Regions from separate parts of the Homo sapiens genome. Here region 1 is linked to region 2. The links come from fine-mapping of genetic effects on gene expression. A gene starts in region 2. The other region holds a variant in brackets. All regions are shown on one strand. Distances are between the middles of the regions.

Region 1 (11,031 bases), 200 kb after region 2:
GGGTGAGGATCTGGGGTCAGTCCAGCAGCACAGCCTCAGTCAGGGGTGAGGATCTGGGGTCAGTCCAGCAGCACAGCCTCAGTCAGGGGTGAGGATCTGGGGTCAGTCCACCAGCACAGCCTCAGTCAGGGGTGAGGATCTGGGGTCAGTCCACCAGCACAGCCTCAGTCAGGGGTGAGGATCTGGGGTCAGTCCACCAGCACAGCCTCAGTCAGGGGTGAGGATCTGGGGTCAGTCCACCAGCACAGCCTCAGTCAGGGGTGAGGATCTGGGGTCAGTCCACCAGCATAATCCTCCCAGGAGCCCAGCAGTAGAGTTGACCATGCCCGTGACCTTTAAATCAGACACCTGTTGGGTTCTTGTTCTGCGTCTCACGTGCACCATATTTTCACCATGTGACCTTGGCCATGGTATTGAATGTCTCTGGCTTTGTCTGTCAAATGAAAATAAAAATGCACTTGTGAGTATTGGGAGGATACAATGAGATACTACAGGTAAAGCTCTTGCACACAGGAGGCCAGCAATAAATGTTTGCTATCTTTAAAGGCCTTGAAACATAGCGTTGTTTTCAGAGTGTCATGATGATCAGTTTACCAGTCTGTCACCTGAAAGGCATCTGGGAATGCAGCAACGGGGAAGACTTGGCCAGGAGATGTGGAGAGGAGATCCCGCACAGGGAGGGGCGGAGGAAACTGAGATGGGATTTCGACAGGGTGCACACAGTGGCCCATAGAGGGGGGTCACAGAACACAGCTGCTAGCATTTTGTATGACCATGCATTGTTAACGTTTGATTCACACAGCATGATGTTCAGGCCCTGTACTTGACCACAAAAAAGATTTAAGATTTCCATCCCCAAGGACAGAGATTTATCTCATTTATTTTCCACTTAATACCTCAGCAAAATGCTTGTCCCTGAGTAAGTGCTCAACAAATACTTGCTGGAGAAGAATATTGTGAAATTGTAGGATAATTTTCTGACATCAGTGGAGAGTTACGTGTAGCTCAGAACACCCCTAAGGTAACATTGATGGCCTTATTACACATTTGATCTGTGTGGGACCCATTTATCAAAACTCTCCGTGACCTCCTGTGGCCCTCCTTGCATTCCATCCCAGGGACCTGGACGGTGTCCCCGGCTTCCAAGCCACCGTGCGGCATGCTGACTTTTGCAAGCCATGCCCCCACCCTCGACCTGCATGAACGTCACAGTGGGCCCATGAGCTGATGACTTCAGAGCAGGTCCTGGAGGCCAGGGCAGACACTGCCCAGTGCCATTGGGCCTTGGCATATGAGGCCACTGCCTCTGGCTAGTGATGAGGGAAAGACGACCTTCCATGATGACGTTCACACACTGATCATAATGTCATTCAGGACACACACTCTTCTCTCAAAATATGGGAATAATTTGAATCCGTCATCTTCCTTCGCATGAGTTGCATCTCATTTGTATTAGTTCGTTCTCATGCTGCTATGAAGAAATACCAGAGACTGGGTAATTTATAAAGGAAAGAGGTTTAATTGATTCACAGTTCTGCATGGCTGGGGAGGCCTCAGGAAACTTACAATCATGGCGGAAGGGGAAGCAAACACATCCTTCTTCACTGGCGGCAGGAGAGAGAAGTGCTGAGTAAAGGGTGGGGGGAGGCCCCTTATAAAACTATCAGATCTCCTGGGAACTCACTATCACGAGAACAGCATGAGGATAGCCACCCCCGTGATTCAATTACTTCCCACCAGGTCCCTCCTACGACATGTAGGGACTTTGGGAACTACAAGTCGAGATTTGGGTGGGGACACAGCCAAACCGTATCACAGCTCACTGAAGCTAGAGTCTGCAACCTCACCTATTTCTGCAGCTGACATTCGAGCATCAGTTCCTGATTTGGCCTTGAGTCATGCAACATGGGCCTTCACGGAACCCCTGTTAGTGAGACTCTTTTATGTCAGTACTTAGGACGATCCATGGGGGCTACTGAGAAATCATAGCGGTTTCCGTCTAGATTCCAGCAAACTGACTCATGTTTGCTAAGTGTTCTCATTAACAGTCCTCATCACTGCAGTTAAGTTAATTATGTTTTCGTGGGAATCTGCCAGTCTGCGGATTGCACTGGATCATCTAACTCAGGAGTCTGCCATTATTTACTGACACTCACCATCTGTTTCGGGTACTTTGTGACAATAGCTAGAAGCAGTTCAATTGGTGTCATTTTATATCAAACTACAGATGGTGGCTCACTCATGCCCTCAGGGCTAATGAACCCACTTGCATGTTGTCTGTGATTTGTGAGACAAGCCTCACCTCTCTAAATATTTATCCTGCTGTTTGTTTTGTCCTACTTGGAAGCACGCATGAATGGAATCCTTTCCCCTGGGATGGATAATGGATACCAGGATCTTCCAAAGGGAAAATCTCTTCCTGCTGCTGATGCGTGTAGATTAGTCATAAAGCCAGAGGGGAAACAGAAAACCACTGTTGCTACCTTTTCTCATTTTTATAGATTTGCACTGTTTCGCCCAGCTCACTATTTCCTGCAGAGCAGAAGTGATGCCCTCCTTGCCCACTTGGACATTCTGACATTTTGCAGGGTTCTAATACTAATCTTGGTCCCCAGCCCGAGGTAAAACAAAAGGCTGAAGGTGCTTAGGAGAGAAAGTAGACTTAATCCGCCCACTCAAGTCCACACTGATTTCTACCCACCACTGCCCTACAGCACATAAAGCTCCATTAGTGTCTTGTTGGCTGACAGCACAGGGAGGAGTGGAATTTCCACAGATTTCCTTATGTGGCCATTTCCCTCTTACTCTCCTACTAGTGCCAAAGAGCTCCAGCCTTTGACCCAAAAACTGTTGGTTCTCATTATTCGCAGTAGTTATGTTCTGAAGTCACCAAGAACACTGACTTAGTGAATACTGAACCATTGCTCCTAGGGGAAATACAAGGCTAAGTTCCTGCAAGCCTCTGCTCACAAGATGTTTGTCAATGATCAGTATATAAGCTGGTTTTCTGTGTAACGGCACCTTGTTTAGTGTGGATTGCTGATTCAGGAACAGTCAACATGCACTCACTCGTGCCTGAATGCAGCTTCTCTTACATATGTGTTTCTCCATAAGGGACTTCACAGCCTTCTTGCACTTACCAACAGTAGGATGCACTTCAACACAATACATGGGGGGCATTTGAAACAGCAAAATCACCAGCATAAAGCACAAAAATGTGGAAAACAGGGCACTACAGAGACCAAGACAAGGACACGTGTGTACAGTATGAGCTGCAGCAAGAAGGCAGGAGCGTCACCTTGCTGGATCTCAGCTGGGACTCATTTTGCCTCTGTGTATATCTGTGAATGCCAGTGTTGATTTGGGGGGGATTCCAAGTGAGTTTTAGTGAGTGGACAAATTGGGAAACACAGAATCTGTGAATAATGAAGACCAACTCTATCCAAGCTGGGATCCGAGGCACTGGAGGACAGCCGCAGGGAGGGTTGACAATAGTGATGTCAATTGTAAGCCTCATTTGCAATTTTTCAACCTTCTGTCCATCACCTGTGCTGACCACTGTCCACACATATCAGGATCAGAGTCTGACCAGCTGTGCCTCGCCTGGTGCTGAGGCTCCATCTAAGCATGATCGGGCAGCGCCTTGGGGAAGTCGAGCACAGGCAGACAGGATCCCAGTGGAGGGCTCCTCACAGGAGAAAGGCTGGGGTGGGGGAGGGGTTCACATAGCCCCTGCCCCCCCAACCCCGCCCTGAGGGCCTCCCCAGCCCCACCATGAGATGTTCCTTGGCCTGAGGGCACCTCCCATCACTGTCTCGCTCGCTAGGCTCTGGTCCACCACAGGTGATGGTGTGGAGGGAAAATAGTAGATTTGAAAAGTTGGGTGCTAACGCTGAAAATAATTTCTTCTGTTTTCATCCTAAGGGGAACGAGGCCCACCTGGGAGCCCAGGACTTCAGGGGTTCCCTGGTATCACACCCCCTTCCAACATCTCTGGGGCACCTGGTGACAAAGGGGCGCCAGGGATATTTGGCCTGAAAGGTAAGCAGGACTTATACATCTGTGCTTCGACATCTCTAGGGGCAGGAGCTGGCAATGGCCCGCTTAATGTAGGGGGAGAACAGACGTTCATTTCCACGCTGTGCCCAGACTCCGGTCAAAGAGGCAGGAGCCATGATGGCTCCTCCTGTGTCATTTCCATCACCTGCACGACCTGGTCCCTGGGAAGCTGAGACACAGGCCATGTCATTTACTTGCTGTAATAGCAGATATTCAAACTGCAGGGGGCTCAGAAATGTGCAGTATGAACGGCTTTCTTCTTCCTCACTGTATTGTGTTTAGACAAGTATTAAATTTAATTTGCACTTCCTAATCACGAACGAGCTGAATATTGGAAAGAGATGGCGTAAAGATGAAGTCACCCGTCAAACAAGTGTTTGTGCGTCAAGGTTCACAGCAGCACTACTCACAAGCACCGAGTGCTGAAAGCAACCCGAGTGTCCATCAACAGAGGAATTAAGAAGCAAAATGCAGTCAGTATCCACCCAGTACAAGAGGAGTCCGTCTTTTTTGTTGGGTTGTTTTCTTGTTTTTTGTTTTTTGAGACAGCCTTGCTCTGTCGCCCAGGCTGGAGTGCAGTGGCACGATCTTAGCTCGCTGCAATCTCCGCCTCCCGGGTTCAAGGAATTTTTGTGCCTCAGCCTCCTGAGTAGCTGGGATTACAGGTGTCCACCACCAAGCCCAGATGATTTTTGTATTTTTAGTAGAGACAGGGTTTCACCATGTTGGCCAGGCTGGTCTCAAACTCTTGACCTCAAGCAATCCTCCCACCTCGGCTTCCCAAAGTGCTGAGACGACAGGTGTAAGCCACCTTGCCCAGCCTTTATTCGGTCTTAAAAAGAAGGAACTCTTATCACCTGCTACCACCTAGATGACCCTTGAGGGCATTCTGCTGAGTGAAAGAAGCCAGTCACAAAAGGTCGGATTCTGTGATTCCACACATACGAGGCCCCTGAAGTCATCAAATTCATAGAAACAGAAAGTACAATGGCTGTTGCTGAGGGTTGGGGGGAGAGGGACACGGGGAGTGCGTGTATAACGGGGACAGATTTCAGTTTAGGATGAGAAAGTTCTGGAGCTGGTCGGCGGTGAAGGTGAATATATTGAATGCCACTGAGCAGTGCACCTAAAAATGATTAAAATGGTAACTTTTATGTTCTACGTATTTTACGACAATTTTTTAAAAACATAGACAAAGTCATTCCATGCCACAGACTTGCCAGAGACTGTCGCCTGAATGGGTGACGGTGCACCTGACTGCCCCCAGGGGCCTTGGGGCCCTGTTTAAACCCTCCTTTCTTGTCCCTAATGCCAACAGGTTATCGGGGCCCACCAGGGCCACCAGGTTCTGCTGCTCTTCCTGGAAGCAAAGGTGACACAGGGAACCCAGGAGCTCCAGGAACCCCAGGGACCAAAGGATGGGCCGGGGACTCCGGGCCCCAGGGCAGGCCTGGTGTGTTTGGTCTCCCAGGAGAAAAAGGTAACAGTGCCCATGGCCATGGGCCAGCAGCCCTGGCCACAGTGAGAGGAGCCCCCTCCCCACAGACTTTCGTGTCCCTAACGTCTTGTTTGTGTTGCAGGGCCCAGGGGTGAACAAGGCTTCATGGGGAACACTGGACCCACTGGGGCGGTGGGCGACAGAGGCCCCAAGGGACCCAAGGGAGACCCAGGATTCCCTGGTAAGTGACCGTCTGGTATCTTCAGAGCTAGTGGCTCAGCCCAGCCTCTCCAGGCTTGGGGACATCCTGGAGGTCAAACGGCCAGGATCCTCTCTGGCATGGGTCACATGTTGTAAAGAGCAGGGAGGAAACCAAGGCTGTGCCTCGGATGTTGTCACAGGACCTTGGGGAATGGAGAGCTT[A/C]ATATTCAAACGGCAGGCGCTGAGTCACGGCTCAGGCCCGTTAGTGTCTGGCTCATCTCTAGAAAGCACAGTTGTCTGGGAAGCTCCAAAAGAAGCCTCCCTGGTGAGAAACGCAGTAGCACTCGGAGCAAGAGAGTGGAACGACCTTGTGTGTTTACTGGGGCCTCTCTGTTTCCCTTCCAGGTGCCCCCGGGACTGTGGGAGCCCCCGGGATTGCAGGAATCCCCCAGAAGATTGCCGTCCAACCAGGGACAGTGGGTCCCCAGGGGAGGCGAGGCCCCCCTGGGGCACCGGGGGAGATGGGGCCCCAGGGCCCCCCCGGAGAACCAGGTAGAGTGCTGAGCTGGGGCCTGGAGCCCCTCGGGGCTGCCCGGGCAAGGCCAGGGCCTGCTGGCATTGCGTCCTCTTGTGTTCTCTTTGTGGATCGCCGGCCGTGCCAGGCGTGGTCAGTTTCCAGCCATAACGCTTCTTTGGTGGCTTGCAGGTTTCCGTGGGGCTCCAGGGAAAGCTGGGCCCCAAGGAAGAGGTGGTGTGTCTGCTGTTCCCGGCTTCCGGGGAGATGAAGGACCCATAGGCCACCAGGGGCCGATTGGCCAAGAAGGTGAGTGACAGTGGGGAAGGACCTTCCCAGGTCCTAGTGCTCTGGATCTGACTCACAGACTGTGGTCTGCAGGAAGGGGACACACGAGAGCCCAGAAAAGCCAGAAATGAGGCGCTGCCCCACCCTCCTGCTCCTAATCTGGGCGTAGCAGCTACACTCCTATGCCCAGCAGAACACCTGGCCCCGAGTCCTGGGACAGCCTCCCTCCTTTTCCTGGGACACCTGCGGTGCTGTGGAGTGGGCGGCAGGGATCAGTAGACTTCAAGGGTCAGGATTAGACAAGGAGCCAAAAGAAACCGACTATTAAAATGTACAAGAGCCGCACTGCGAAGCCCTGTCTTACTTTTTTTTCTTTTTTGGACAGAGTCTCGCTCTGTCTCACCCAGGCTGGAGTGCAGTGGCGCAATCTCAGCTCACTGCAGCTTCTGCCTCCCGGGTTCAAGCGATTCTCCTGTCTTAGCCTCCCAAGTAGTTGGGACTACAGGCATGTGCCCCCATACCCAGCTAACTTTTTTGTATTTGTAGTAGAGACGGGGTTTCACCATGTTGGCCAGGCTGGTCTCGAACTCCTGACCTCGAGCGATCCGCCAGCCTTGGCCTCCCAAAGTGCTGGGATTACAGGTGTAAGTCACCGTGCCTGGTCGTCTTATTTTTTAAAATTATTTGCACATATACAGAATGAAATAGGCCAGGAATAACAGCTATTCATGAAAAAAAAAAACCTCAAAATTTGTCTTAATCAACCTGAGCTCAGTTTGAGCCAATGGTCTGAGCATTAAAATTAAAATTAAAATTAAACATAGGGGCCGGGCGCGGTGGCTCACGCCTGTAATCCCAGCACTTTGGGAGGCTGAGGTGGGCGGATCACAAGGGCAGGAGATCGAGACCATCCTGGCTAACACGGTGAAACCCCGTCTCTACTAAAAATACAAAAAATTAGCCGGGCGTGGTGGCGGGCGCCAGTAGTCCCAGCTACTCGGGAGGCTGAGGCAGGAGAATGGCCTCAACCCAGGAGGTGGAGGTTGCAATGAGCCAAGATCGCGCCACTGCACTCCAGCCTGGGGGACAGAGCGAGACTCCGTCTCAAAAAAAAAAAAGAAAATTAAACATGGGTAGTACTATTGGTGTCCAAGTCAAAGGAAATAGCAGTCCCCTGCCCCTGGGGACAGATCCGCAGCCGGCAAATTATGGGTAGTGTGGGGTGCACCTGAAAACAAATGCCAGCAAATGGGAGCCCGCCCAGGGTAGGAGACAAGCTAGGGATGGTGGAGGGGAAGTGTCCTGGGAGAAAGGGCCATGACCATGGGTGTCCCTTGGAAGGGGAGGGGACAATGGGAGAAAGGGTCACTGGGGATAGCTGAGAAATATTCACAGAGCTGCTGTGCTGGAGGCAGATGAGCCACCCCCGTGTGCTCCTCGGGTAGGAGTTACAGGAGGCTGCACGCAGAAAGAACATTCTAACCCAGGCTGTGGTCAAGTGCGCAGTCAGCATGGCCTGCGATGAGCCATGTCTCCTGGAAGTGTCCAGCGGAGGGAGGCCACTGCTGGGGGTGGGGGCTGGCCTGCGATACTCCTCCGGACACTTCCAACGCCAGGCACGTTGGGCACATCCTGAGGGGCACATGCCTACCTATGGCTGACTGAGTCTTTTATGGAAAGGACCCCTCCTCTGTGCCCAGTGCCCTCACTGCCATCATTTCATGCTACTGAGAACAAAGTGTGGATCAAATCCTTCCCAAGAGTCTCCTGATCTCAACAGACTGAGCCCCAAGATCTGGGGAAGGAGAGCGATGGTTCTAGGCGCACCTGGAAACTGCCCTGCACTCCTGGGTCCCGAGGTTTCTGTGGGGCGGCTGTCAAGGGGGCTGCTCTCTCTCTCTTTCTCAGGCTGCAGGTGCACTAGGCCGTCCACTCTCTCTCTCTCTCAGGCTGCAGGTGCACCAGGCCGTCCACTCACTCTCTCTCTCGGGCTGCAGGTACACCAGGCCGTCCACTCTCTCTCTCTCTCTCTCTCTCGGGCTGCAGGTGCACCAGGCCGTCCACTCTCTCTCTCTCTCTCAGGCTGTAGGTGCACCAGGCCGTCCACTCTCTCTCTTTCTCGGGCTGCAGGTGCACCAGGCCGTCCACTCTCTCTCTTTCTCGGGCTGCAGGTGCACCAGGCCGTCCAGGGAGCCCGGGCCTGCCGGGTATGCCAGGCCGCAGCGTCAGCATCGGCTACCTCCTGGTGAAGCACAGCCAGACGGACCAGGAGCCCATGTGCCCAGTGGGCATGAACAAACTCTGGAGTGGATACAGCCTGCTGTACTTCGAGGGCCAGGAGAAGGCGCACAACCAGGACCTGGGTAGGTACCTCCCACCCGGCCCCCGTTGCCTGCTCAGGGCTGGCCCGGAAGTGGCCAAGATCAAAGGGCCACAGCGAGACTCCCAAACCCTCCACGGCTGGTAAGTTCCCCTGACGGAAGGGTCCATCTACATTCCTCGAGTGCAGAAAGATTAAAACGGCCTTTGAAGCAGAAGCCTTACAAAGCCCTTAAACCTCAGGACCTTAACACAGGGACCTGCCTTTTAACCTGGTATTGACTTCCGCAGGCTCCCATGTGACCCGTCTGACCCCCGACCCCTCTCCAGTGGAGACCACCAATTACTTCACCTCCTTCTTGTTTTTGACCCAAGTTCTGTAGACTTGGAGTCAGGCAGGGGCCATGAGGGGCTGGGGTTCATGTAAGACTCTCCCATACAGCCCCCCGAGGAAAATGGACCCATGGACACGTGTGCATGCTCTTATTTAAGGAAGCCTTTGAAAGGCATTAACGCGACTTCGAATACAGAAAATGCAATACACACAAATTACAAGTGGAGGTAGCTTAGTCTGAGGTCCTCTTTGAGGGGGTGACGGGAAGGGTCTCTGGGATACTGGCTGTGTTCTGCCTCCTCGGTGCAGGTTACATCAGGCGTTCTGCCCCCGGGAAGCATGTTGCTGGCTCATGGTGCCTTCACATTCCTGCCTGTGCGCCCCGCCTCCACAATGAGTTTCTAAAGAACAACGGGGCAAAGGCCGCCAAGGATAAGGGCCAAAAATAGATCTAGGAACAGGGCCAAGGAGGCAGCCTAGCACCGGGCATGTTTGCTAAAGGTGGCTGCACTTCTGGGTCTGAGCTTTTCAGCAATCCATGTGAAGAGGGAAACCTGCTTAGCTGCAGCATTCGTTGTGGCCAGGAGATAAAGGCTATCTTAGTCTCCAGAAGCAATAAAGCTACATGGAAGGGAGAAGGGCCAGGACTCCTTCTGGGGTGGCTCCTTGGGGTCAAAGAGCGACCCCTTGGAGGCCATCAGAGTTTTCTTGGGGCCAGTGCTGTTAAGACCCCACTAAGGTAAGGCTCACCCAAAATGCTATTCCATGAAGACGCCACTCCCTGGTGATCCAACTTGGCCCAGTATGTGTGAGAACTTGTAGAAGAACAGAGCTGTTCCAAAATGCCAGTGGAGTCTGATCAAAAAGAGAAAAAGAAAGAAATTGGGAAGCCTTAGCCTGGCCCTCCAGTAGGTGGCTAAACTCCACCAGGTGCCCTGGGGCGAGTCCGTGACACACAGCCTCCTGGGCCTGGCTGGGGCTGGCAGGTGCGTCTTCTAGCCACACTGCACTGTGATCTCATGACCCCTCCTTCCACAGGGCTGGCGGGCTCCTGCCTGGCGCGGTTCAGCACCATGCCCTTCCTGTACTGCAACCCTGGTGATGTCTGCTACTATGCCAGCCGGAACGACAAGTCCTACTGGCTCTCTACCACTGCGCCGCTGCCCATGATGCCCGTGGCCGAGGACGAGATCAAGCCCTACATCAGCCGCTGTTCTGTGTGTGAGGCCCCGGCCATCGCCATCGCGGTCCACAGTCAGGATGTCTCCATCCCACACTGCCCAGCTGGGTGGCGGAGTTTGTGGATCGGATATTCCTTCCTCATGGTATGTGGTATTTGCCCAGTTCCCCTCCCCAACCACACCCTGCTGGGGACACAGCAAGAACAGCTGCCTTTGTGAGAAGAATCAGACACGGCAGTCCAGGGTGTGCACTGCACAAGGGTAGTTGGCCCAGGAAGCGAGCGAGAGCTGGAACACAGCTTACACTTGGCTAACTGAGCCACATGCTGGGCACAGGGCTTCCTCCACCCAGAAAGGGCTCATTAATTTGCCACCAGGCCTTTGTAAGGAGTGTAACCAGGACGAACTTGCCTGTTATCCGTCTTACTAGGTACAACACCAACACCAAAGGTGCAGCTGCTTTGGGTTTACCAGAAGTCTAAATATATGGGAGACTTTTCTCTAGAATCCTGATCTTATTTAGAATCTATCTGGAACCTAGAATACCCTGAAGAAATACCTATTAACTGGCTGGCTTAAAATGGATATATATTCGTGAGGAAAATTCTGGAATACCTTTGGGTATAAAATAGAGAGCCTGTGGATACTTTGAAAGCCAGGAGAAGGTGCACAACCAGGACCTGGGAAGGCACCGCCC
Region 2 (11,031 bases):
GCATCCAGAAAGAAGTAGGAGACTTTGTGACTGAGCAGATGCAGAGGATAAAGAAGAGGAAAGGCTAAAGCCTCATAGTCTCTGGGCTCTGTACCCAGAAACATCAGAGGGCACCAGGACCAAAATGGCAGAGTCGGGAAGGGTTGTCAGTCCAGGTAAAAAATGAGTTCAGTCCTGAACATATTTGCTCAGTTTGAGATCAAAGCAAGACAGCCAAGGGGAGGCGTCGCGTGGAAATGTGAAGACGTTGAACTGGAGTTCAAGAAGGAGTTCTGGAGTCCCCTTCAGGGAGTAATGGTGCATCATGGAGCAGACCCCCAGTGGAAGTTAGAGAGTGCAAAGAACAAAGAGAACCACGCAGAGCTGCCCCTGCAGCTCACCCACACTGAGGGGCATGGGAAGAGGAAGAAGACAGAAGCAGAGACACGGAAAGAGCGCTAGGAGGGACCCATGTCCCAGAGTTAGGACCAGGAGAACAATGGAGGGAAACGAGGCTGGAACCAGCTCACTGTGTACCAGACTATCAAAGTCTTCACCCCAAAGTCATTCCTACAGTGTCAAAAGACTCAGAAGAAATTCACCATTAAAACATGCTCTGGTTGACATCCCTTTTCATTGTATGCATAAGAATGGTAGGAATATGTCTTTTGTATTGTTCTATAGTTGACATTTTTTCATGGTTGCTTAATAATAGCAGGAAGAACAATGCTCTAACATTATTTTAGGCATTCTATTGTTGCTTGAGCTGACTCTAGCCCAAGAACTCAAAATACCAAACCTCCTTGTGAGACATTTTAATGAGGTTAATCCTTCTTCAATTTGGGGAACAATTATTATAACAAATATCATAGAATTCATCAAAACCACTGTTGTCATTTAGCCACTTCTTGATGTTCTTCCACTGTCTACAAAGGTTTGTCTTAGATCATCACTGGTGGGTTCCATTTGTCTGCAAAATCTTTACCAGCTCTTAACTAAATAACTGAACTTGTTATGACCATCCTTGCCAGTTCTCAGAAATTTGCCAACAGCCTTGTTAATGAATAATGTAGGGTTTTGTGAATTCCCTCATGGCCTGGCCCAAGTAAGGGTAGGTTTTCTGGGTCAGTTCCTAAAGGCACTCCTGACTAGAATCAGTCATCCATGCCGCAACTTTCCAAACATCCCCTGCCTGCCTACCTGCCACCTCCGAGAAAAGGGACAGGACCACATACTGGGGCCTCAGTTGGAGCTGGGAGCTCTTTTTTAACACTGGTCTCCTAAACCCTGCCCTTCCAATTCTTTCCACCCCTCTGAGAGCAAAGTTCAGCCACCAAGATTGTTAATCACAGAAACAATGACATTTTGGTATCTCAAAGGAGCAAACTTGAAGGTCATCTTTCAGTGCAAAGACCCTTAGACTTGAGAGCAGACAGGCAGAATGACCATGTCTTCTGTGTATAGTACACCATCACAGTGCACATGGAAATGACATGCTGGTGTATAGTTCCTATTTCTCCCTCATATTTCAGAGGCGGAAGCCCCTCCCAGAAGTTTCCTCTGAGTTCCCCAAAGCTGGATTCAGTGTTCCTATAGCCCTTCGATTCCCCTGATTGTGACATTTACCAGCCTGACTTGGATTCGTCTGTTTCTTTTCCAATATTTCTCACCTGACCTTCCTGAGGACAGAGAGTGGGGGTGAGTCCCTGCCGCATGGCCAGCACCTGGCAAGGTCATGGCAGGAAGGAGGTGTTCCCGATGTGTGTGTGGAATGAAGGAAGGCACAAACGGGTCCGTGTGAGGAAGGGACAGACCTGCCAGGGAAACTGAGGTATAGAGTTTGATGAGTACCCCCAAATCATCTGCTTAAAAGCAGGTATAAAATGTAAGGTCCTCTGGTGCCTAAAGCACACTCATCCTGTGTACACGTGACTATTAATAATATATAGCATTGATAATTCTGTGAATCTAGTCAGAGTACATGAACATTGTGTCTTCTGGTTGGTCTTAAAGTTATGTCCCTTCACCCTAGTCCAATTCCATCTATTAATATAAAGAGCTTGCAGATATAAGGAATAGCTTCACCAATATCACTCCTGAGATCCTGGGCGATGCTGCTCTTGTTGGGACTGATTCAGAAACCAGCCTTCTCTTCTAAACTACATTTCCAGTAGAACATGGTCCATACTTATATGGGAATGAAATCTCACTTAGTTTGAACTCTAGGTCATTCAGTCCCAGAGGTGGTGACTAATGGTCAGGAGATGACAGTATTGCTGGACAAGCATCACCACACTGAGGGGAAAGTTCACGTTTCTAATCCTGAGAAATAATCTGTTAAGAAGCATCACACAGAACCAGCTAGAGGGGAGTGTGAAAGCTGCTGCAGGAAGGGTTCATTCCGCCCAGTGCAACTGAGTGACTAAGAGTAGAGGGTGCTCACAATCAGAACACTGCTGGCACGTGTTTGTCTGGAGCCTGCAAGCTATTCCTCCTTTCTTGCTGAAGAAAAGTGGAGGAAGGGAGGAGCGGGGAGTAGAGTGGTAGGTTCAGCGTGGGATAAAATCAATGGTTTAGAAAATCCACCCATGAGTACGTAAACAATATGACCATAGCAGATACAGCAAATACAAAATTAAACAGCCTTTCATGAAGAAAAAACAATAAGGGCAATTCATGCCTGGCACACAGCAGGTGATGTCTGGATGTACAAATGCAGGTGAAGTGTGATTCAGACAGTGCAAAGGAGAGGTAAGCCAACAGTCACTTCCACTGGCTTCTGAATGAGGATCTGATCAAATCCACAGCATCTTATCATTCAAAATGTGCTTTTAAATTATGTTTTGCTTGGATCAGTATTGAAGCTATTTCAGTGTTATGGTACATCTAACAGCTGATTTTGGAAGGAGGTAAGCCAAAATGTTATTGATGGCATGAAAAGTGAGACAAATTTTAAAATTAGGCAGATTCAGTTTTTAAGTGATTTTCTTGTATACCCATACATCATCTGCACATTAAGCACTTTTCTCTAATTAAGCCAGGGAAAATACAGAGTAATGATAATATCTGTGAGGTCAGCTGTGATCAGAAGTGCCCACAGGCTGCATCTCTTAAAAACAGTCCATGGCACCTCAAGGGACACTGCAAAGACAGTGGCCGGGAATGTAATTGAGCTTTAGGAAATGATTAAAGGGAAGTAAAATCATCTCCAACTCAACATTAATGCGTTTGATTTCCCGGGTGAGAACAGGATTTGCGTAACTGAGTGGTTCTTTCTTTCTACAGTCCTGGATGTTTGGAAAGCCAGCTCTTACAGTTAGCTTTCTTTGCTTTGCTAACATTATCCATCAGAAAATCGAAATGCAAACAGCTCCTATTTCCCAATGAAGAACTTTCTCTGATTTACCTTACCATCATCAGGCTTCACCATCTCACCTTGGAAGCGTTCAATCTTTTGGTCAATATTTCTAGACCAAAATAAAGTGCTCTCAAGCCTGTTCTTTGGAAAGTATTTTGTCATCATTACCAAAGAGTGTTTAAATAACTGGCTATGAAGTTTGGGGAGACTGGGCTGGGAGGTACAATCTGAAGTTAATTGCTGATGTAATCATTAGTCCTTTCAATACCCAGTGGAGAAGCTGCCTCCAGGGAGATAAGCTCTCAATTAGGAGACGTGTGTGTATATCACCAGTTCTCTCTGGCATGTAACAGTTAACAATTTCTATACAGTTAAGTGGATTTAGTGAGTATCATTCTTCCAGGAGAGAAGTAAAATTTTTTTTTAAAGAGGAAAACAAAGAACAAGATTAAGAACAGTAAAAGAATAAGTATGGAAAATCTGGTAAGTAGCAAAAATCATTTTTAAGCATTTGAGGGAGAAACTGCAAAATCTGTTCAGAAGCCACACCTTCCGGCCTGTGGGACTGCATGGCTGTGACACTGAGCAACAGCTGAAGTCTTTATTCTCTCGGAGGGGAAGGAAAAAAGGAAACAACAGTCAGTCCAGGCTTGTCCACGGCTGGAAGCCTCGACTCCTGCAAACCTCCTGCAAACCGATCTCCCAGATCCTTTCTGGGCAAGCACATAACCAAAGGAAATGAAAACTAGAAAAACAATTTGTGCATGGAACAATGACATGGAGTTTCACTTTGGTTTCATGCTCAAATATGAATGTGGTTATAATTTTTTAAAATATATATTAATAGAAGGCAACGAGTTGAGGATGGTGGCTTCTTCAAGCCGGGCGTCCAGAAGAGCCCCACTTCTGCCTTGGAGCGCGCCTTAGGCAGCAGTCGTGGGAAAGCTCAGATACAGCTGTTTCCAGGCAAAGGGCCCAGAGCTTTTCAGCCTCAGCCACCAGGGTCTCCAGACAAGGAGAAATACGCCCAAAGCTGCTCCCAGGGGCTAGGAGCTCGGAGCTCCCAGTGTGGGTCTCTGAGCAGCGCGGGGTGGGCGCTCCCGGCCCTCCAGCCCCCAACTCCCTCGCGCACCCGGGACGGGTGAAGGCGCCCAGCTGCCGAGCATACCCGCGACGCGGGTTCAAATCCCGCCGGCTCCCAGGCACCCTCACCCCGCCACAGCGCGGGCTGTTTCTCCTCCCTTCCCCGGAGGAATTCCTTAACTCTCCAGTACCCATACCATAACAAAGGAGGCTCGGTCCACCAATGCGCGATCGTAGCCTACAGGGACCCCCAACGAACCCCGGCCCAGAGAATGCACCTGGCCGTGCCACGCGCGACCCCCGAGGGGCAGGCGGACGGGTCCAGGCGCGGACAAAGGGGCCTCTCGGGGCGCCCAAGCTCGGGGCGGGACGCCGGGAGCGGAGCTGGCCGGGAACTCACCTTCGCAGCGGCCCGGCTGTGCTCCTCGTGGAGCAGAAGGGCGGCGGGCAGCAGCAGCAGCCAGACGCTGAGCCGGGGCCCCATGGTGGCGCGCCCGAGGCGGCGAGGGACGGCTGCCCGGCGTGCGGGGGCCGCGGCGGACAGCTAGCTCTCGGAAGGCCGGACTTCCAGCGCTACGCACCGTCCCGGGTGCGGCGGCTCCAAGCGGAGACCTGAGCGCGGCGGGCCGAGCTCCCCAATTTGTTGGCGCTGCCCCCTCCCCCCCGGCGGTGCGCGGGCGGCGCCTCAAAGGGGAGGACCCTGCGGCGCGGGTAAGAGGCGGCGGGAGCGCGCGGCCCGGGAGTGTGGCTGCAGTGCGCCGGGACACCAGGGCTCCGCGCTCCGCACTCAAGAGGCTCCCGCGTCCCAACCCCTCGCGCCCGCGCGTTCGCGGATCCAGGCCGAGGACCGAAAGGGGCCGCCCGAGCCCCCGGGGCCGGCGCCCAGAGAGCCCAGCAAGGCCGGCCGCCCTGCCGGTGTGCCGCCGGCGGGTGCTTCTGGAAGGGCCAATGCGTTCGGGCAGCAGCCCCTGAAGCCGAGCCCGAGGTGAGAGCGACCCCCGAGCGGCGCCCAGACCCTGGCCCGAGAGCACCGACTTGGAGCGCCTTGTGCAGGCTAGGGCTGCACGCTCTCCTGCTTGGGAGTAGAAAGGGGGAGGGTGGGAGAGCGAAGACCGAGCTCCTCGGCCAAGGAGCACCCACAGGGGCCTAACGGGAGGCTCTCCTTCTTTCCGGGTCGTGGGGGGGACGGCCCTCCGGTCACCCCTGCATGCGGGCCGCGCACCGCGCTGTCCCCGCGTCTCGCGGACCGAGACCGGCGGTGAGGATGGGCTGCCTCCCTCATCCTGCGCTAAACTCGCTTTGTCTGTCGCCTCTAGGCTAAGTGGGACTGACCGGGGCCCAGAGTGGACGAACCGCCAGCATGGGGAGAGACCAGCGCGCGGTGGCCGGCCCTGCCCTACGGCGGTAAGCGACTTTCTGCCTGGTCCCCGTGGGTCACGCGCGCATGGACCCTTCGGTGTAACTCTCGGGGACTGACAAGCCGGGCCCGCACGTTCACGTCTCTCTTCCTCCCTTTCCCATGCAGGTGGCTGCTGCTGGGGACAGTGACCGTGGGGTTCCTCGCCCAGAGCGTCTTGGCGGTAAGTCCTGGCTCCCGCGCTTGGACTTGCGCGCCCGAGAGTGGTTGGGACGTTTGAGTGGCCTTGGAGAAGGCAGCTCGTCCGTGCGCTCCCGAGTGTGTGTGTGCGTGTGGATGTTCGCCAGGCTGCCCACCAAGGTTCTGAGAAAGCTTGCTCTTCCCTCATCATGCTTTCCACCTTTCCTTCCCCTTGGGTTCCCAGCGTCAATCCTGTGTTTTGCAAGCGTCGGCCTTTCACGGGAACTGGGAACTTAAAATGTAGCCTGAGGCACCGTTTTCGTTGCTTTGGGCAAAGCTGCAGCCGTAGAGGCCAGGAAAGTGTGTCAGTCACTAGGCAGTGAGACGCCAGGCTTAGGGCGAAAAAAGTTTTCCTGGAACTCGGGAGCTGGTGGGGAGTCTCTGTCACGGACTGAGGGTTTTTTGTGTTTTTAAATGGGAGTCTCTGGGTAAAGGGGCGGGGCGAGGAGGCGAACGAGACAACCTTAGTATTGTTTGAATTGAAGCATTGCGAGGGAACAATGGCAGAAAAACCGCGTTTTCTCCCAAGTCCTGTTCCGGCCCTGGAAGAGCTGCTCCGGGCGCCACACTGGGATCCTGTTCGCCGAGCCTGCCCCTCCACGCCGGCCGTGCACAGCCCTGCCGATACCGTGGGTGCAGCTGGCGACTGCACTGCGAGGCTTTGTCCATTTTATACGTTTTGTTTAAAGAGTAGGAGCCACTTTTACTGAGCTTTATGTAACCATGGCTAAAATGAAGAGGTTTGGTAGGTGAATTCGGTGCAGGACTCAAATGTTTAGACAGGAGCTGAAAGCGGAGGGAGCTTTCGAGATGTCCGCTGTCCCTCCTCTCCTTACTGTGGCCGATGGAGTAGCCCTGCCCTGTGGCAGCCGGGGCCCAGGTGGATTCCTCCTGGGAACGACCCCTCCCTCCTCAGCGCGCACTGTGCCAGAGCAGTACACAGGTACAAAGGGCAAACGTGTTCATGATTTCATTTGAATTCTGTTGTTTTTACATCGTTCTGCCCTGATGTAAAACAAACCAGGATTTTAAAGGCAGTGAGTGATGAGGAGCTACTCCCACTTGGGGAAGAGCTGCTAACTTTACTTTTCCGCTGCTGTTGGTTCCGGTTCAAAGCTCGGTTTGGGAAGTAAGAGGAGGACTCGGAGACTTTGACCAGAGCACTCCAGGCCAAAGTTTTCTTCCAGTTCAGGTCTGTCTCTTCGTCCCAGCCCCGACTTAAGATCAGAACCTAGATATTTGAACTAGCCCAGTGACCCTGTGAATTCTAATGCACAGGTCTGTACTGCATGTAAGACTTGGCTCAGATTTATGAACCAGAAGCAATGCATGCACGCGCACGCACGCACACTCAAAGAAGGGGGCGATCCCTAGAAAATACCACATCGGGCTGTGTGTGCTTTGGTTGTGCTGCCACCTGCACCCCTTTGTCCCTTAGAGCCACTTTTATAATTTCCATATGTTCATGCCTAAGGATGGTGGGAGTCCCAGGTATTCTTTTCTGAACTCATCCTAAAATTGGTAGAAAGACCACCAAGCACCTAGGTCTAAAGATCTAGGTATTAGCCTGGGCATGGCGGCTCACGCCTGTAATCTTAGCACTTTGGGAGGCCGCGGCCTGTGGATTGCCTGAGCTCAGGAGTTCGAGACCACCCTGGGAGAAACACGGTAAAACCCTGTCTCTACTAAAATACAAAAAAATCAGCCGGGCTTGGTGGCGCTTGCCTGTAATTCCAGCTACTCAGGAGGCTGAGGCACAAGAATTGCTTGAACCCAGGAGGCCGAGGTTGCAGTAAGCCGAAATAGCACCACTGCTCTCCAGTCTGGGCGACGGAGCAAGACTCTGTCTAAAAACAAAACAAACAAACAAAAAAAACCTAGTTACTAAACATAGCTCTGCCCTAATCTCTTAAATCCAGAGCCCCAGTTTCCGTACTCTGAAGAATTACGGCTTCACAGAGGCCAAGTGCCCTAAGGCAGATAGGACACCTCTATGCCTCCCCAAAACCTCATCATTGCTGCAAGCTCACCCCCAGTCTCTTTGACTCTTTGATCTTTGGATGGCACCAAGAACATTGATTGCCCAGCAGAGCTTCTCAAAGTGCAGGCCCCCTAGACCCCCAGACCTAAACCCTGAAAGGCTTGTTAAGAAGTCAGGCCCCATCTCAGACCTTCAGGTCAGACATTCCAGGGTGGAGTCCGGGACTCCGCCTCCCCACATGATACCAGAATCTGGGAACCACTGAGCTACAGTATTGGGTTGAGAGGCAGTTGAGATTACTTGCCAATTCACTTTATTTTCCTGGGCTTTAGATTCTAACTCAACCAAAAAAAATAGATATTTTTAATCATTTTACTAGGGACCTAGTAATATGTGTTGTTAAGAGACATGTAGTTTGTTACGTTCAACAAGGGGCTGGTCTTCTACTTACTCACTTCTTGGTAACCACTGGCTTTAATGGCTGTTCCTTGTGAAATAATGTTTCAATTTTCAACTGTATTGATTAAAGATTTTTCTTAATTGTGGCAAGGACTCTTTCCTGCGTAGGTCAGTTCAGGAAAAAGGGCTGCCGCTGGGAGCCCTTTGGCTTGTTTTGTTTCGGAAGCAGCTAGGATGGGCAGTGAAGAGCCTTGGTGATTACTTATTGGGCACTTCCTGTGTGCCAATTTGTCTGTACTAATGCTTCTAATCCTCACAAGCAAGCACACTGATGAGCTAGGTAACTATTATTACCCCCATTTTACAGGTGAGAAAAGCCACAAAGGGTTTGCAGCCCTCGCCCAAGGTTCCTGTCTTTGTAACTGAATGAGACGGATTAGAACCCAGGCCTCTTCCTCCACACCGAGCTTCCCAGGGCCTGAAAGGTGGCCGGGAGGGCACTCCTGAGTTTCAGTCTTTGAGTCTCCTGGGGTGTGGGTGCTTTCTTCTTGGTCTTGACCGTGGACTAACAGTGGAGCGGGCACTGATTCCTAGGAAGGAGGCTCTCCCCCTCCTTCCTCCTCTGCTTCTCCCACTGTGAGGATCAGGGGCAGCAAGTGAAGGAGAGAAGCAAGACCCTTCCCAAAGGGAGGAAAGGAAGCCGAAATCCCACGGGGCAGCCTGGGCTCTAGACTCAGTGTGAACCCAGGTGATCTGTGTGGGCACCTCAGGACACACTCCCTGCTGTCCAAGGTGCCCTTTCTAAAGGTGCCCTTGTTTGAATGTGGTGCCAAGATGCACAAAATGGCTTCGTGTAAGGCAGTGTGACACAGGGGTCCCATCCCAGACTTGAGGCAGGTGACGGGGTGCAGTTCTCAGTCTGGTGGGCAGCTGAGGGGCTGCCGCCTGGGGCGGACATTCGCCAAGCCTCTGCGTCCTAGTTCTCCTCTCCCCCAAAACGGAGGTGTTACTCATCCCACCCACCTCATAGATGGGGGTGCTGTGAGGTGTGTGGGTGCATGTGAAGCGCCTTGGAGGGTCTGGCACAGCCTGGGTGCCAGGAGGTATCCCCTGGGCCTGTTTAAGGGACTTCCCCTCGGCTGCCTATTCTAACCTTCATGGAGGCTTGAAAGCACTCACTGTAGCCGCTCTGAGCATTGTCACCTATCTCCAGAGGCTGGCAGCAGCCTGAGGGATCAAATATGCAGCCGGCTGGGTGGTCACCTGAGGACCTCTGGCCGGGACCTGGGGCCACAATAGACGTGGGTTCACGTAGGCATCAGTGCGGGGCCCCTGCCTGCCACCCTGCCGCTTAGTTTCCAGGCTGTCCTCGGGGCTCCAGCCCCAGGAAATTCGCCTGACCTTCCTGTTGGCTGCCACCGCCTTCCCTGCCCTCCAGGCCGGCAGCTGCGGTGGCAAGTCCTTTCCGCAGGCTTTGGTACAGGGAGGAGAGGTGTTCATGCCGCACGAGGCCCAGAGCTTTCTGTAAGGATCGGGAAGGACAATTCTTTCCTGCATTTCCTGGAGCTGAAGCGCTATTGCTCAAAACATGGCCCTCTGAGAAGAAGGGAAAAGCACGGGGTTCCTCCTCTGCTCGTGGATAAACAAGCATATCTCAGCTCTCTGGAGGCTGTTAAAGTCTTCCTCCATGGGTGGCTTGTAGGACTTGGCCACGATAAATAATAGCAGAGATTTGTCAGCAGCATCCCAGAAGGAGAGGTGGGTAGGAAGGGTAAACCGAAAAGCGCAGGAGAGGAAACAGGCTCTGTACGACCAGGCGGCTATGTTTACAACCAGAGAGAGAGAGGTGAAGAGGAAAAGGTTCTAGAATAGAAAAAAGATTTTGCTAAAATAATAAAAATCAAAGAACTGTGTTTAATTGTGTTTCTGGGGAGAGGGAAAGAAAATGGATGTGTAGTTTAAATAATAGAGAAACTCAAGGGAAAAACTGAGTGCCATGGAGATTTAACTTTTCAACCCTGTGTTGATAATATAATGAAGAGATCACCATCTAGAAAGTGGTTTGAGAATGTCTCATTCTTTTTATCTGAAGAAGAATGTTTGTCTTTGATTAGAGGGTTTTAGAGAAAGCTCTGAAACTGGCCTCATGCTTTGTGTCTGCTGGTGTCTACTGTGTGATCACTGCTGAAGGTAGGAGGCAATGTCTGCAACCCCCAGCCTTGGCTGATAGAGCTTGTGAATCAGGGACCAGGAATGACACAATAGTCTTGAGAGGCCATAAAGTCTAATCCAGCCTGTTGCTAACCGGGTTCTGACTTCAGGGCAAGACACTTTACGTGCTTTGGCTCTGGAGCCTGGAAGAGAATGTTGTGTGGAATGGATCTCTCAGGTGATCAACATACCATGAGTAAGTTAGAGGTCAGCAGTGAGGGCTGGCCTGTGCAGGTGTGCTAAGACCTGTGAGGGTGAGCCGGGGTCTCCGCTGTGATGCTGGGGATGAGAAAGCCCTTCCAGATAAGCTCCAGAATAGAATCTATCCAGCCTGCACCAGGATATCGCTTAGAAATCAATATGCCACATGGGACTTTTTATCTTCACGGTGTCGAGAAGCTTCTGGAATCCAGTAAATATGTG

Which allele goes with the higher level. Alleles are on the strand shown, and positions count from the first base shown. SD is a standard deviation of normalised expression in the study named.
In carriers of allele C in region 1, the expression in monocytes after LPS of the gene that starts at base 5,161 in region 2 tends to be lower than with A alone (large effect, 0.77 SD a copy in Quach 2016).

Evidence for each region.
Region 1: its variant is fine-mapped to the expression of COL4A2 in monocytes after LPS (Quach 2016, PIP 0.95).

What each region holds. Positions count from the first base shown.
Region 1 is chr13:110,497,744-110,508,774 of GRCh38, forward strand. It overlaps COL4A2 (collagen type IV alpha 2 chain), which reads left to right. Exons shown (of 48, transcript NM_001846.4): 41 at 3,925-4,041; 42 at 5,378-5,539; 43 at 5,640-5,738; 44 at 6,104-6,250; 45 at 6,405-6,521; 46 at 8,672-8,863; 47 at 10,192-10,478. It overlaps COL4A2-AS1 (COL4A2 antisense RNA 1), which reads right to left and starts at 10,436. Exons shown (of 3, transcript NR_046583.1): 1 at 10,356-10,436; 2 at 9,904-10,008; 3 at 4,833-5,185. RefSeq lists enhancers at 1,203-1,702, 5,105-6,034, 9,857-10,358, 10,359-10,858. The variant A/C (reference allele first, on the strand shown) is at 5,921.
Region 2 is chr13:110,302,124-110,313,154 of GRCh38, forward strand. COL4A2 (collagen type IV alpha 2 chain) reads left to right here and starts at 5,161. Exons shown (of 48, transcript NM_001846.4): 1 at 5,161-5,405; 2 at 5,737-5,824; 3 at 5,946-6,000. The coding sequence starts at 5,781. COL4A1 (collagen type IV alpha 1 chain) reads right to left here and starts at 5,034. Exons shown (of 52, transcript NM_001845.6): 1 at 4,821-5,034. The coding sequence starts at 4,904. RefSeq lists enhancers at 4,790-5,623, 5,624-6,456.